Linked DNA regions of Homo sapiens: region 2 is linked to region 1. A link means that fine-mapping ties the variant in region 1 to the expression of a gene that starts in the linked region. Tissue or cell type: whole blood. Region 1 holds a variant in brackets; the other region holds the start of a gene. All regions are shown on one strand. Distances are between the middles of the regions.

Evidence for each region. PIP is the estimated chance that this variant, and not a neighbour inherited with it, causes the effect.
Region 2: PRKD3 starts here. The variant in region 1 is fine-mapped to the expression of PRKD3 in whole blood (TOPMed, PIP 0.97).

Annotation. Positions count from the first base shown.
Region 1 is chr2:37,231,670-37,234,298 of GRCh38, forward strand. It overlaps NDUFAF7 (NADH:ubiquinone oxidoreductase complex assembly factor 7), which reads left to right. Exons shown (of 10, transcript NM_144736.5): 1 at 1-91; 2 at 437-597. The coding sequence starts at 37. Among named protein-coding and RNA genes, the nearest start is that of NDUFAF7, 1.3 kb to the left of the region's middle. RefSeq lists an enhancer at 1-471. The variant A/T (reference allele first, on the strand shown) is at 1,277.
Region 2 is chr2:37,323,340-37,326,040 of GRCh38, forward strand. It overlaps PRKD3 (protein kinase D3), which reads right to left and starts at 1,494. Exons shown (of 19, transcript NM_005813.6): 1 at 1,342-1,494. It overlaps PRKD3-DT (PRKD3 divergent transcript), which reads left to right and starts at 1,742. Exons shown (of 2, transcript NR_183394.1): 1 at 1,742-2,183. RefSeq lists an enhancer at 505-584 and a silencer at 1,225-1,854.

The sequences.
Region 1 (2,629 bases):
GCTCCTGGCGGAGCGAGCTAGCCTGCGAATTTCAGCATGAGTGTACTGCTGAGGTCAGGTTTGGGGCCGTTGTGTGCCGTGGCGCGCGCAGGTAAGCGTCAGTCCCCTCGAAGCCCGGTTGCCGTGGAAGCCGCGTGGGGCGCCTTCCTCAGCTCTTCAGTTGAGGGTACCGGGGGATCAAGGGCTCGGGGGCTCACTTCCACCTTGAAGGTACCCTGGGCTGGAAACGGGTCCGGTACAAACGCAATAGGGCTGCGTAGTCGTGGGCAAGTGGGTGCTGTCTCTGCGCCCCGTGGGCGTGCTAAGCACAGTAGCCCGCGGTCTGCGGTGGGGCGAGGTTAAGGGTTCACGAAGCTGTTTTGAAAACGCTCAGGCGGCTTGCGCTCGTGAATGGTCAGATTTATCATGGGGTCTGTTTAATTTGTGTTTTTCGCAGCCATTCCTTTTATTTGGAGAGGGAAATACTTCAGCTCCGGGAATGAGCCTGCAGAAAACCCGGTGACGCCGATGCTGCGGCATCTTATGTACAAAATAAAGTCTACTGGTCCCATCACTGTGGCCGAGTACATGAAGGAGGTGTTGACTAATCCAGCCAAGGTATGGGTCGGGTAGCCCGAGGACTAGGCCCTCTCTAGCCGATTTGCGAGGTGCAAGCCAGGAGGGAGAAGCCCGAAGGTTCTCAGCCCAGGCAGTGGGGGTGCCTGCCAGGGGAAGAGCCATTTCTGAGGACCTGGGGACAGATAATTTGTCAGTTGGTCAGGGCTGGCTCACGTCAGAGGCAGTGCCAGTAAAGAGGAGAGGACACGGTCCAAGGGTGTTTAGGAGACAGAATGTAGCTGATTGGATTTATGATGCGGGAAGGATGACTTTCCTACTTGGCTGATGGTGGGTGGTGTGGATTCATTGCTTTGGGAGAAGGAATACGGGAGGAAGGATGGAGAGTTCAGGCTGGTATATGAATTTGAAGTGTGTGGGACTCTTAGGTAGAAATCTCCAACAGGCAGCTGGAAATAGGAATTACTGCCTGGAAAGTCGTCTGTGTTGGAATGGCTTCAGCTGGCATTGGAGACATGTGCTGGGTTTTCTCACATGTGCAGTTGAGAATGCAGTCTGGGTCGTCTTCACTGTTCTAGGATTAGGCACAGTCACAGCTTTCTGACCCACGTTTCCTTGTCTGTTCTACAGAGCCATTTGGTGAAAGCCTATAGTCCTTTATTTTAGAATATTTCATCTTTTGCTGGGTTGAAATATGACCTCTGTGGAATTCTGGGGTTAG[A/T]TTGGCCATTGTTGTTGGATATGGTAGTGTGACTCTAGTGTCGAGGTTTACCCAAGGCCGGTATCTTTCTTTCGATGCCGGTTAGGCAGGGCTGCAAGATAGGTGGCTTAGACTAGTGTGGTGGTACTAGAAATAGAAGAGGGTGATTTAGAAAGGGACTGACAGGATTTGCCGATGGATTGAGTGATGGAACGGAGGAATCAAGGCTGATTCGTACTTTTAGCTTGAGCAGTTGGGTGATGATGGTACCTTTTATTGAGATTAAGACAGACAGGACCAGGTTTGGAGGAGTACTAGGGAGAGGGCCTACACCAGGAGCTGCATTTTATACATATTTTGTTAGCAGTGACATGCAGGTGGAGATAGAAAGTAGGCAATTCGCTGTAAGAGTCTGGCGTTCAGGGCCGGACGTGGCGGCTCACGCCTGTAATCCCAGCACTTTGGGAGGCCAAGGCGGGTGGATCACGAGGTCAGGAGTTTGAGACCAGCCTGACCAACTTGGTGAAACCCCGTCTCTATTAAAAATACAAAAATTAGCCGGGCGTGGTGGCTTGTGCCTGTAATCCCAGCTAGTCAGGAGGCAGGAGAATCGCTTGAACCCGGGACGCAGAGGTTGCAGTGAGCCTAGATTTCGCCATTGCACTCCAGCCTGGGCAACAGAGCGAGACTCTGTCTCAAAAAAAAAAAAAAAAAAAGTGAGCCTGGTGTTCAGAAGAAAGACTGGGCAGGCATATATACATTTGCTCGTCATCAGCATATAGGTCATATTTAAAGCCAAGGAACCAGGGAGAACATACTGAGAGAAAGGAAGGTTTCCCAGCATTGAGAGTAGGGGTAACTCTAAAATGTAGAGGCTCTTAACCTAGGGACCCTTTAATAGAAATCAGGGGTTTCATGAAGCTGGATGGAAAAAATATTATACCTTTATTTTCACTAACTTTCAACTGAAATTTAGCATTTCTTCAATTATGAACATACGCAGCAACTAGTAGCATCAGCAATACCTGTGACTTTGTCATCTGTGGAAATCATTGGTATTTCCTTATCACAATACAGTGATCACAGGCATCTCAGGATTTCATCGTGCTCATCCTTACTTCAAAATTTTGTTAATTATTGGGTCTTTGGCTTGATTATGGGCTTTTTTGTTTGTTGGCTTTTTGAGATAGAGTCTCATTCTGTCACCCAGGCTGGAGTGCAGTAGTGCAATCTTGGCTCACTGCAACCTCCACCTTCAAGGTTCAAAGGATTCTTGTGCCTCAGCCTCCCGAGTAGTTGGGATTACAGGTGTATGTTTCCATGCCCAGCTAGGTTTTTTGTATTTTCAATGGAGATCGGGTTTTGCCTTGTTGG
Region 2 (2,701 bases), 92 kb after region 1:
TAGAACCGAGGATGGAACCTGGCTCGTCAAGGAGTACTCCAAGCTCATGCACTCAGGCCCACCACAACTGTATTACTACCTACTGAAGAAAAACCTTCCACGGTTTCTGTGTGACACGTTTCAAATCCTACTTTTAGAAAATCTTCTAACTTCTTGGCTGAATGTCCATGCTTGATCTTAACTCGGAATCTAACAGGGAAGGAAGCAAGGGTTCGTTGACAAGGAAAAACTGGCCTAGATCTCAGTCGGGGGAACTTTATGGACGCCTTCTGCAGCAAAGCTAAGGAAAATGAAAATCGCTAAAAATGTAAGAACGACGACATTAAGTAGAAGGGTAAAAAAAAAGTTTCAGAGGAATAAAATAACATTTTCTAGGATACAAATTAAGGCATTTAAAAGTTCTTGTTCCATTTGTGGCTATGTCTCATAAAAGCTGTGTCGCACCAAGCAGCAGTTCAGGGTGTAACTTATCCTTCCTAATCAAAGATGACACCGATAGTCTTATTTCCTGTGGGGATGGGTGTGATTGAAGACACAGTTACGTCCATGCCATCAATCTGTGTGTGGAAAAGTCGGCAGGTCGCGCGCACACACTTGTCGCTTGAATCGTATGTGTGCCTGCAGACGGCAAGGCCTATGCCTCTGACTGCGTTCACCTGAAATAAAATACCCAACCGGCAATACAGTAGTATATGGTTATTTTCACTGCTCAAAGAAACAGTGGCACTCCTCAGTGTTTCAGCTTAAGGAAAACCTCCCAGGAGGGAGCAACTCGGAACAATGCTGCAACTAGCAAATCCAAACGCAGTCGGGATACTGGGGCGAGGGGCTTACATTCTCCAAGCACCATTTACTCACCCCTTTGAGACGACTACAACGCAAAGTGAGGAAATGAAACGAAAAAGCTGGTCCAAAATTCGGCACTGCGAGCGCCGCGGGTCTGGCTTCGGGAACTAGTTTGGGAGACCCGGGAACGGATCGCCTCCGATGGGCCGGGCGCGGTGGTCTCCAGCGGAGCGCGAACCCAAGTTGCCCTCCGCGCGGACGCCGGAACTTGGCCCCTCTGGCGGCTGCGGCGGCGCCCCCGCTCCCCCTCAGCCGCCCACCTCCCGCCGCGCGCTCCCCCAACTTCCCGCCCAGCGCGGCTGACACCGCCCAGCCCGGCGCGGGGTCCGAGTCCTGTCGCCGCCGCCGCCGCGTGCAGTTGGGGGGTTGGGGGTTTGGGGGATGGGGGAGGGGCCGCCGCCGCCTCAGCCCGACGGGCCGGGAGAACAAAGCGGCGGCGGCGGCGGCGCGAACTTTTTCGGTGTCTGTTCAGCGCTCCCCGAGGCGACTACTTACAGTGGCAGGCTCGGCCCGTCGTGAGAAACTGCGCCCGCCAGCGTCTGAGTACCGGACGAGGCGCCAGCGAGGCTTCACGCGCCTCGCAGGATCCCGCCCGCCTCCGGCGCCCCTTCCTCCCTCCCTCCCCGTCCCGTCCTGGGGCCGGAGGGCGGGGGGCCGGGGCGCGCGGGGGGCGGGGGCGCGCGGCCAGCGCGGGGCCTGCCGGGAGCTGTAGTTCCTCGGCCCGCGCCCGCCGGGAGGTGGCCGCGGCGGGAGGTCGGGGTTGTCTCTGCCCCGCGAAGGGGCGCCGGGAGCGCCGGGTACAGTCGGGCTGGCTCCGCACCCTCGAGTTCCGGGCGTCTTCGTGAGCGCGGGGGCACGGGGCAGGGGCGCCGCGGGAGTCGCGAGCGTGTCTATCAGTTACACGCGGTACTTGATCGCGCTGTTGCCGACGGTACTGTCTTTTCCTCTACTGCCGTGCACTCTTGAGGGAGGCGGTGGCGACAATGGGCCAGAGGTGATAGTTGGAACGGGGGACTTGTAAGGCGTCCAGAGCAGAGAGCTGCTTCCACCCTGAGATGTCACAGCCCTCCCGCATGCTCCTCCCTGCTGCCTGCCCCCGGGGTGGCCGCCGGCACCGCAGCTCGGCGCCCAAACCGGCACGTCCCAAGCCCGACGTTCCGGTGACTGCAGGGGTTTTCCCGGTGCTCGGTGTTTCCTCCCCGTCGGCCTTTAAACGCGAATGTGACCCTACCACCAAAGTGGAGTGCAGTCCAGAATCACCAAACCTGGGCTTCCAGGTGTCTGGAAACACAATGTTAACATTTGTTTTGCTCCAAAACAAAGTATGACCGTGTCGGGTGAGTGGGGCGGGAGTGGGAGTCAGCAGCATAAGGATCTAGAGGGAAAATACACTGTGCATAAATTTTCGATGTCTTATGTGAGAGAAAGGCCTGAGAAGCTGACAGGCATTGTCACAGAAGCCACATGATTCTCCTTATGTCAACATTTTATCCCAAAAGTACTTAAATATATTGAAACAATCAGAGGGACTACAATCAAGAGGGCAGTTTTCTTTCTTCTCTCTTTTTCTTTCTTTTCCCCTTTCTCTCTTTCTTCTTTCTCTCTAGAAAAGGTTTTACTCTGTCATCCAGGCTGAAGTGCAGTGACACGATCATAGCTCACTGCAGCCTGGAGCTGCTGGGCTCAAGTGATTATCCTGCGTCAGCCTCCCAAGCAGCTGGGACTACAGGCGTGTGCCACCACGCCCCACTAACTTTTAAGTTAGTTTTTGTAGAGACGAGGTCTCTTGCTGTGTTACCCAGGCTGGTCTCCTGACCTCAAGAGATCCGCCCGCCTCGGCCCTCCAAATCGTTGG